Regions from separate parts of the Homo sapiens genome. Here region 1 is linked to region 2. Evidence: fine-mapped expression QTL. Tissue or cell type: whole blood. Region 2 holds a variant in brackets; the other region holds the start of a gene. All regions are shown on one strand. Distances are between the middles of the regions. Region 1 holds the start of KCNQ5 (potassium voltage-gated channel subfamily Q member 5). Region 2 has its middle 110 kb from the start of KCNQ5.

What was found.
Region 1: KCNQ5 starts here. The variant in region 2 is fine-mapped to the expression of KCNQ5 in whole blood (TOPMed, PIP above 0.99).

The regions. Positions count from the first base shown.
Region 1 is chr6:72,619,847-72,625,221 of GRCh38, reverse strand. KCNQ5 (potassium voltage-gated channel subfamily Q member 5) reads right to left here and starts at 3,158. Exons shown (of 14, transcript NM_019842.4): 1 at 2,635-3,158. The coding sequence starts at 3,032. It overlaps KCNQ5-DT (KCNQ5 divergent transcript), which reads left to right and starts at 2,543. Exons shown (of 3, transcript NR_186827.1): 1 at 2,543-2,690. RefSeq lists silencers at 1,824-1,873, 2,904-3,163 and enhancers at 1,522-2,473, 4,584-4,773.
Region 2 is chr6:72,513,098-72,518,472 of GRCh38, reverse strand. No RefSeq gene overlaps it. Among named protein-coding and RNA genes, the nearest start is that of KCNQ5, 110 kb to the left of the region's middle. The variant G/A (reference allele first, on the strand shown) is at 2,727.

The DNA of each region.
Region 1 (5,375 bases), 110 kb before region 2:
ATTATAATAATTATTTTTGCATAAATAATAGAAATTTATATTTACCTCAAGCATAACTTTAAACATGCTTTTCTTGTTTCTTGGCAGTGAAAACACTGGTTGACCAAGTAAATTCACCCCTGAAGTACCTCATTAATCACGGTGCACTTGTTCTTGGCAAGAACCTTAATATGCTACAAATACTGTTATTAAAATAAGATTTGGGGATTCCCAAGCTGGCAGGGAATTAGTTAGTTACACCTCTCTCGAAATTATTTTATTGGGGTCTAGTTAAACTTACAGCATAAAGCAACTTCGATAAATGAATGTAATGTGTAAAGTCTGGCTATTCTAAAGCTCATTTAAAATCACAAGCAGCAACTGCCAAAGATGGCCTCTTTCCTCAGGGTCTGCTTAGTTGTGCACAATCCTCCCAAAAGATGATACTATCCATTCCCTCTTTGTGCTAATGTGGATATAGCACCCCTATCTAATTGCTGAGGCATTGCAGTTTCAGACTCTAAAATGTATAATCAAAACTTCACATTTGCTACATCTATTAAGTACACAATTTATTTCCTGTCTACTACTAAAGATACTGCTAGACTGATAAAGCCTGGTAGACAGAGAAGTATCCAACCTTGAACCTTTGGAAAAATCATTTATTAATGTTTTAAAATTCTGTAAGCCCATACAAACCTGTTAACACCAACACATGGAAAAGAAAATGTTGTGTTGCAAGTTCTCATTCATGTTCAAGAACAAGTTAGGAGATGCAAAGTATGTGCACCAACCAAGGCTTTCTTTAACTCTCTCTGAATATACAATGCATAATATAAAAAAAAGAAAGGCTAGAAATGTTTTGAGCATACTGTTGTAAAGAAAAAATCATAACCTATACAGTATATATATTTGCTACCAAATTGAGCATTATAATTGCTAAATTATTTTAGTATATTCTGACAGGTCAAAATAATTTACCAGGCTTATTAAGTAATATGTTTAATTACATATCAGGTCAGAGGAGATTAACGAGAAAAGTGTCAGTTGCATTTCTCTATCATTATCCTAACCACATTTAAATAAATGTGAATTTTACATAAAAGTTATACTTTTTGATGTAATGATGATGCAACACAACCGTTCTCCTTGTGTGCATTGTAAAACGGAAAGTTGGCTGGAATATTCTGCCTAATGCTACATGTTCACGTCAATCTGGGACTGTAAAATTTTCCAGACACCAGAGCCCCACAGATTGTAGACTCCACCAATTTCCTGACTCCTATGTGGTTGAATTCCAGGTTCACCTAGTTACAAAACCAGCCCTTCTTCCATGTTATTTCAAAACACGTTTCTGGTGTTGATGCTAATTCTGCATCCCAGGAGAGAGCTATGTATGGATGACATAACTTATTTCTAAAAGAAACCTAGTCCGTGTGCTCAAAACTTATTTTACTAGGAAACAAGGAATGTATCAGCGAGTATCTGCAACTTTCTCTACTGGTCTTCTAAGGTTGATGTCTTTATATTTCATCTTAACAAAAAAGAAGCAGAAATAATAATACTAAAAAAAGAGGAAGCAAAAGGAGAAGAGGAAGAAAAAAAGAATTAGACACGAGGTAACATTATAAAAACAACCTTAAAATGCCCAGATAAACGTAACTCTAATAGGAGACTGAATGAATGGACTTTGTGGGAAAAACAGTAGTAAACTTTAAAGCCACTGAAAGGTTTTAAATGCCTAAGGGAAAAATAAACATTTGCTTCCAATCATTTTCTCATTAAGCATTCTCTGCTAGATGGAGAAGGCTTACTACACACACACACACACACACACACACACACACACACTCTTTGACTCCGCGCCACAAACGGGGACTTAACCCACTGCCCGATCTCTGTCAGAGGCGACCCATTTGCGCTTCTGCTATCGCACCTCCGCCCGCGTTCCTGCGCCCCAGGTTCCCCGCTGCCTCCCCGCCCCCTGCAGCGCGGGAGCGTTGCTTCGCCTGGCCTGCTGGCCTCCTCTAGACCTTGGCCACCTTCTCCGTGGCAGGAAGGGCTACATGCACTGACAGATTTTCCGTTGGTGGTGGCTGGGTGGTGGCGAGGCGTGTTTCCGGGCGCGCTTAAAACCTAGCAGCTCTCTCCAAGTAGCAGCTTCCCCTACTCCGCCCCTAGGACTGAGGACCTAGCCCTCGATGCCCCCTCACTTCTCCCCGTCCTACCCCGCCATCACCTCCTAACCTCTCCAGTATACTCTCAAGCCTCACACGGGCGCCTGTCCTCCCTTTGCATTCCCTAGCTCCCGGGCGCCCCGTTCGGTTGAAGTTTACGTATCTTGGGACCTAATTGCTCCCAATTATCCGCGCAGCCTAAGTCCCGCGTCTGCCTGGCTCTCGCCCCGGGAGCCTGAAGCTACCGGGCAGTTCATTGGGTGTCCTCGGGGAAAAGGTTCAAGCTGTAGAGATGAGAGAAGTGGGGCTGGGGGAGGGGAGAGGCTCCAGAAGGAAGACCACGAACACGTGCGAAGAAATAAAAGCCACCACGTGTGCACGCGCGCGGGGGCCCAAGGGCGCGAGCGCGGAGCACGCCCCAGGGGGCCAGGGACAGTGGTCCCCTGCAGCGGGCATAGCAGGGGGCGCGGGTACTCACACGAAAGCGTGGTAGATGAACGCCCAGCCGCGGGGTCTCTCCAGCACGTTGTACAGGTAGTTCTGCACCCGCCGGTACTTGACGTTGCGCCGGCAGCTCTGGCTACTCGTGTAAGAGAGCGGCTTCCCCAGCAGGCTCATCCGGGCCCCCTGCTTGCCCCGGCGGCTCTCCCTCAGGCCACCGCCGCCGCCACCGAGCGTGGCCGCGCGGGTGCCCAGCAGTAGCAGGCCGTCGCCCCTGGCGGCTGCCGAGTTCAGCAGCACCCTGCCCCGGCCGGACTCCACATCCTTCATGCCGCTGCCCAAGCGCCCCCCGCCCGCCGCCGCCGCCGCTGCGCCGCTCTTCACCCAGAGCCCGGCGGCGCCGCCCTCCTCTCCTCCCGCGTGGTGGCGGGGCATGGCATCACCACGGGCACCGCGAGGGGGCCGCCAGCGCCTGCGGCGGGGGCAGCGGCCTCATGTGCGCCGGCGGGTTTCAAGGAGGAAGCCGGCGGCCGACGGGGCGCCCGCCAGCCAGAGACCTCTGAGCCGGGGGCGGGGAAGCAGGCAGCCAGCAAACCGCCCGGGCTTCGGGGCGGGAAAGGAGGGGCTGCAGAGGAGGCCGAGGAGTCCCAATTTCTAACAGCCTTTAGCTTCGAATTCTAAATCCGGACCTGTTTGGGGCGTCACTTTGAGAGGGTTTCTCTTGCTCCCTCATTCCCGCGACTACCACTCCCTCCTTCCCAAACTGCCCCCGGGGATAGAGTGGGGGAGTGCGGGGCGCTCCGAGGCGCGCTCCCACGCGCGCACACCCAGCCCCAGGCTTCCCCTTCCCTCTCTCCACTCCCCACGCCCTGCAGCGAAACGGCCCCAGAAGCCCCTCTCCGAGGCGCGAGTTCGGTTTGGTTCTGGCAGGGGCTTTGCAGCTGTCCGGAAGGTGAAGTCAGCCTTGTGTCCTGAGGAGAAACTGGAGATGCAGGTCGCTGTGCCCTCCCGCTGCTACGTCGCTGCGCCGGATCCTGCCATCCTTCCGCAAGGGGTGAGAGCGGGAACAGCCCTGCCCTGCCTTCCAGGTATTATCTAGCCTGGAGGCTGGAGCGCAAGGTAACGCTCCGGGAAGTGGCACTCGGGTCCCCGCACACGGGCGAGTCCTCAGCAGTTCAGTGGACAGACCCGCAGGACGCGGCTGCCAAGTCCGCGAGGCAAGGACCAGGCATCTTCCCGCGCCTCACTCCAGCCTGCGGACTGTGACTTTCCATCCCAGTATCAGACAAGCTCGCGAGTAACTGAACATCCTTTCCAGTCCATGGGTGGGGTGTGGAAAGGGCGTAAAACTCCAAAGTGGCTCCTCCGCGGTGAGCGAGCTGCCCCGGGGCTCTGCCTGACTGCAGCGCGAAGCCTGGGAGAACAAACCCAGTTCCCTCCGTCAAGAAATTTCCATTTAAGTCCGAGAAAGTCATATGATTGAGAAGTTCAGCAGCGGCGGCGAGGACCCAGTGTCTGGGAAAGAACACCTGGAGGATGGGGTGTCCAGGACGCCGGCTTTTCGGGGTTCCGACCCCACCCACCTTATGTTGTAACATACAAGCTTAGAGACCTGTTGCAAGGAACAACTGACTGGGTCTTCCACCACCCCTGGCACCCGGGTGGCCCAAAGCCTATGCGCCCTTGGCGGAGAGAGAGGCCACGGTGCCACTGGCCGCAGCCTCTGGCCTTCAGAAACAGTGTATTACAAAGAAAAGGCAGTTTAAATCTCACATTCAGCATAGGGAAAACTGAAGGGTGCCAGGCTCGGGGACTTCTTCCAACAGAGTGGCTCTTCCCCAAATATGAAAGAAAATCATCAAATTAAATTGAAGGCAAAACTAAGCTTCCACCACAAAGACATAGCAGATAGTTGCAAGGTGGATTCCTTCGGGCCTTTTCCTTTCCTAAGGCTAAAACAATGCTAAGACAAAAGTCTTCTTGCAGCTGTCTCCGCCCCTCCGAGATAAATACTTTCCCAATTCTCCCCCACCCTGTACACACACCCACGCCCGCGGCAGCTGATTTCTGTCTTCTGCAATAGCTCGATTTAAATGCTTTGCTTTTACTCTTTATTATCACTATTATTTGTGTGAAGCCCTCTCGCCTGCTCCTGGTCACCAGCAGGAGCCTGCTTCCCTCCCTCCTTCCCCCCAAGCCTCTGGGCAGCAGAAGCTAGCTGGGAGCTCTGTGCAGCTGGCGGCGACGCCATGTGACTGTGAGCCGAGCACCATCACCCAGAGTCACTCTCTAGCTTTCCCCTAATACACTTCACACCCACGCACTGTGGAGGTGCGAGAGAGGTTGCTCCGTGCGGTGCTATTCGAGGCAGATGCAGAGAGCGCCCTGGAGTAAGCTCTCCAATCCTAGAGCTGCGCGGGACCCTGACTGAAGGCGGAGGGGGCGGGAGGGGGTGCTGTTGCTATATTTAGACTCCCTATGGAGTTTCTGTGCAGGGACTTTCAGGGTGAAAGATCTAGAGACTTAAAATGACTCGTGTGCCCGCTTTAAACGTCAAAATCTTGGCCTTTCTGCAAGCAGTAAAATGAAAACCACTTCCTCTTAACTTAGCTGTTTTCCTTGTTGCAGACTGCTACTTTCGCTGGGTAGGTAAAGTCACTTCCATCTCTCTGGCGCGGCTGGGCCCCGCGTGCAGGCAAGAAGTCTCAGGAAGGCAGGACACAGGGACACGTTTCCCTGGAAGACAGCCAGCTGTTTAATTTCTAAGTGATGCTTTTC
Region 2 (5,375 bases):
TGGAGTGGCATAACCAATTCTGAGGGGAGATTAGAATATCTTTAAAGTGAAAAATTACAGAATTAATTTAAATTTTAAAAACATTTATATTCAAATTTCAATCAGCTGTGTTTTCAACTCTGAAAAACAATTTTAATGTTCTCTGGAAAAATTAATACATGTTTTAAAATTCTAACTTATAATAATGATATAGTTGTTACAATTATCATTCCTTTTTCAAAGATGAAAAAATTGAGATCCAAATAAGTTAAGTAATTTGTTAAGGTCACACAGCTAGTAAGTAATAGATATCTCAGAAAACCTATCTCACAGCCCATGCTCTCTTTTAGGGGAATGGTCACTTAATGACTATTTTATGATCCAGAGCCTTCTCAGGGCATTATAAACATCTCTAACAATTCTTTCTGCCATGTGTTCAATTAAGGCACTTTTGTAGGAGAACTTTTTAATAGTCTGAGTATTCAAAGCTGTTAAGAAATTACCTTCATCAAAATTTAAAACTTTTTCTCTTGAGGCTCTATTAAGAGAATGAAAATCAAGCCACAGACTAAAAGAAAATATTTGCAAACCATATACCTGACAAAAGACTTGTGTCCAGAAAATACAAAGGACCATCTGAACTCAACAGTAAAAGAAAAAGAAAACAACTAAATAAACTGATTAGAAAATCAGGGTGGATGGAATGGCTCATGCTTGTAATCCCATCACTTTGGGAGGCCGAGGTAGGAAGATCACCTGAGGCTATGAGTTCAAGATCAGCCTGCACAATATTGCAATACCCTGTGTACAAAAAATAAAAAAATTAGCTAGGCATGGTGGCATGTGCCTCTAGTCCCAGTTACTTGGGAGGATGAGGCGAGAGAATTGCTTGAGCCGAGGAGTTCAAAGCTGCAGTCAGCTATGATCACGCTACTGCACTCCAGCCTGTATGACAGAACGAGATCCTAACTCAAAAAAAAAAAAAAAAAAAAAAAGGGAAAACTGGCAAACAACCTGATGAAGTGTTTCATCAAAGAGGATATACAGATGGCAAATAAGTACATAAAAAGATGTGTTACATCACTAGCAATTAGGAAAATGCAATTTAAAACCATAACAAGAGAAATTCACTCTATCCTGGGAATTAGATGGAGTAGATGCACTTCTCTCTATTGCCTCTGCTAAGGAAACTTAATACCTCAGACATCATATATTGAACAAACATTGGAAGAATTTGAAAAGTGGAGGAAAGAAGGCAAACTAGTAGGCACCTTGGGACCTGAAGAATGACACGGTGGTGACTTCCCTGGATTTTCTTTTTGCTTCATATCCCTTAATGTGTGGTAGAAAATCAGGAACCTGGAAACTCCAATGGGTCTGGACCAAATAAATAAGTAAAAAGCCCTAAGAAAGGCCTTATATCTCAAGTCAAATAACAAGAAAAGGGTCAGCTTAGTAAGAGAAAAAAATCTTTTAGACAATAACATTTCTCCCTATACTAGCAAAACACTGGACAAAACTGTGACTGTCTCCACACTCCTAATAGCAAAGAAAGACTGGGGAGACAAAACTTCCATGCCTGTGAAGTTGCAACATATTGCCCCCTTCATCACTGTGGTTGAATCTATGAAAATGGAGTGGGACGTGAGAACTTTTATTCCCTCCCTAAGACCCAACCTCATCCTGACAGTGTCAGTGGAGGTTATGTCCAAAGCAAAATTGAGACATTATCCCCACTCCAAGTCAGAATGGTGTCAGTAGAGGAAGAGAGTGGAGCCCGAACTCCCACATTCGCTTAGGAAAAGAGCCTCTCCTGGGGCATCAACTGCAGCTAAGTGCACAACCTGTACTTTCACTGCCACATGGCAGTAATAAGGTAGTGTCCTCTTTTCCTACTGGCGCAATGTCAGAGGAGGCCTGCTAAGGCAAATAATTTAAATAAGATCCAGAGTCTCATAACATAATAGCCAAAATGTCCAGATATAATATTAAATTACTTATCATACAAAGACAGAAAAATTTTGCGTTGAATGAGAAAAGACAATCACAGATAATAATGCCAAGATTAAATAGATGTGGGAATTACATGACAAAGATTTTAAAGCAGCCATTATAAAAATCTTTCAATAAGTTTGAAGCATTTGAAGAAAATGGAAAGTACCAGCAAATCAATAGAAAGACTCTGCAAAAAGAAAGAATTAATGAAAAGAAAAAAATATATATAAAGGAATGAACTAGAAATTTTAGACCTGAAAAATATAAGAACTGAAATTTAGAAAGTCAATGGATAGGCTTATCAGTATAAAGAAGATGACAGAGGAAAGAACTTGAACTTAAACATAGGACAATGGTAATAAAACAATGGAGATTACTCAACTTGAAAAACAGAGAAAATAGACTGAAAACAATAAACAAAGTCTTAGGGATCTGTGGAAACTCTAATTCAAGATTTATGCTAACAGAGTCCCAGAAGGAGAGAAGAAAGAGAGGTGTGGTTGAAAAAGTATTCAAAAAATGGGTAAAATTTCCCCAAATTTGGCAAAGGACATAAACCTATAGGCTTGAGAAGCTGAGAAAATGTCAAACAGGAAAAAATCAAAGGACTGTATGGCAAGACACATCATAATGATATTTCTGGAAACTGAAGACAAAGAGAAAAATCTTAGAAAACACCAGGAGAGAGAAAAAAATCTTATCAACAAGGGGAAAACAATTGAGATGACAGTGAAATTCTCATCAGAAACCAC[G/A]AGGCTGGAAAAAAGTGGAACAATATTTTTCCATTGCCAAAAGAAAAAATTATTAGCCCAGATTTCTATAGTCAGTGAAAAAAACCTTTGAGAGTGAAGGAGAAATCAGGATATTTTATGATAAAAAAAACTAAGAGAATTTATTGCCAGCAGACCTAATTTTAAAGGATGATTTAATGATTTATTTTCCTAAACAGGAAGATAAATTATTTATTTTCCTAAACAGGAAGAGATGATTGAAAAAAAAAGGTTTTAGAGCAAAGAAAAATAGAAAGTGCAAAATCAAATGTACTTTCCTTTCCCTCTTAATTTTTGGAAATTGTATTTGATAGTTGAAGAAAAACTATACTGTTGTACGTTTATAAAGTACATAGAGAAAATATTTAAGACAAATATATTATAAATGGAGTACAATAAAGGAAGATGAAGTTTCTGTTCTTTACTTGAACTGGTAAAATGATAATACCAATAGACTGACACATTATATACGCATAATCTACTACCTACAAGAACCACTAAAAAAACTATACAAATAAATACACTAAAAAAAACTCAACCTCAAGATAAATCAAAATGGAATTCTAAAAAATATTCAAAGTAACCCTCAAGAAGTCAAGAAAAAAGAGAAACAGAAAAATAACAACAAGAACACAGAAACCAAAATGTCAGGCTGAAGCACTGAAAATTTAATCATCACATTAAATGTAAATGATATAAGTAGAGCAATTAAAAGATGGAGATTGGCAGAATGGATTAAAAACCATAACTATGTGTTGTCTACAAGAAAATAACTTCAAATATAACAATATAGATAAACTGAAAGTAAAAGGACAGAAAAATATATCATGCAAACATCAATTAAAATAAAGCAGAAATGGCTATATTAAAATCATATAAAGTATACTTCATAACAAAATGTTTACCAGGGACAGAGACAATCATTAGTGATAAAGGAATCAGTCTACCAAAAAGATATAGCAATTTTAAATGTGGATGCACCATAAAACAGAGCTGTAAAATATGTGAAGCAAAAAATGATAGAACTGAAAGGAAAAATAGGCAAATTCACAATTATGATTAGAGACTTCAGCCCTTTTTTCAACAGTTGATAGACCAAATACAGAGAAAATTAGTAATCATATAAAGTCAACACCACCACCAAACAACAGAATATAATTGGCATTTATAGGACACTCCTTTCAACAACAGCAGAGTTCACATCCCTTCCAGAATTCATAGAACATTCATCACAAAACATCATGTATCTGGCATCTGTAAAACAAATTTTGCCTAATTTAAAAGAATTGAAATCATACAGAATGTGTTCTCTGGTCATAATAGAATCAAAACAGCAATGCGTAACATAAATATAACAGAAAAAATTCTAGACTCTTGGAAACTAAGCAATGCATTTCTAAATAATTAGTGGGTCAAAAAGGAAGTCTCAGCCGGGTGAGGTGGCTCACGCCTGTTATCCAGCACTTTGGGAGGCCGAGGTAGGTGGATCACCTGAGGTCAGGAGTTCGAGACCAGCCTGGCCAACATGGCAAAACCCTGTCTCTACTAAAAATGCAAAAATTAGCCGGGCGAGTTGGCGTGCACCTGTAATCCCAGCTACTCAGGAGGCTGGGGCAGGAGAGTCCCTTGAACCTGGGAGGTGGAGGTTGCAGTGAGCCAAGATGGGACCACTGCACTCCAGCCTGGGTGACAAAGTGAAACTCCATCTCAAAAAAATGGAAGTCCCAAAGAAAACAAAATACATTAAATTGAATGAAAATGAAAAAACAATATATCAAAATTTGTGGGATGTAACTAAAGCAACACTGAGAAGAAAATTTCTACTACTAAATGCTTATATTAGAAAAAAAGAAAAGTCTCAAATCAATCATCTCATATTTAGAAACTAGAAAAAGGACAAAATAAACTAAGAGCAAGCATAAGGAGGAAATAATAAAACTAGAGCAAAATTCCAAGAAATTAAAAGCAGAAAACAATTGAATAAACCAACAAAACAGAAAGTCAATTCTTTGAAAAGAATAATACAATTAACAAGCCTCTAGCGACACAGACAAACAAATATAGAATCAAGACACAAGTTACCAATATCATGAGTAAAACAGGGAATATCACTTCAGACCCTGAAGACACTGAAGTGTACAAAACCACAATGAGATCTCACTGCACACCTAACAGAAAGGCTAAAATGAAATATAGAGATAATACCAAATCTTGCCAAGGATGCAGAGAAACTGATTGCTCGTATATCGCTGGTAGGAAAGGAAAATGGCACAGCTACTTTGGAAAATAGTTTGGCAGTTCCTTACAAAACTAAACAGGCATATGTGTTATAATGTAATCATTGCACTCTTGAACATTTATATCAGAGAAACAAAAAGTATGGCCAGGCGCGGTGGCTCACGCCTGTAATCTCAGCACTTTGGGAGGCCGAGGCGTGTGCATCATGAGGTCAGGAGATAGAGACCATCTTGGCTAACACCGTGAAACTCCTTCTCTACTAAAAATACAAGAAAATTAGCCGGGCGTGGTGGCGGGTGCCTGTAGTCCCAGCTACTCTGGAGGCTGAGGCAGGAGAATGGAGTGAACCTGGGAGGCGGAGCTTTCAGTGGGCCGAGATCACGCCACTGCACT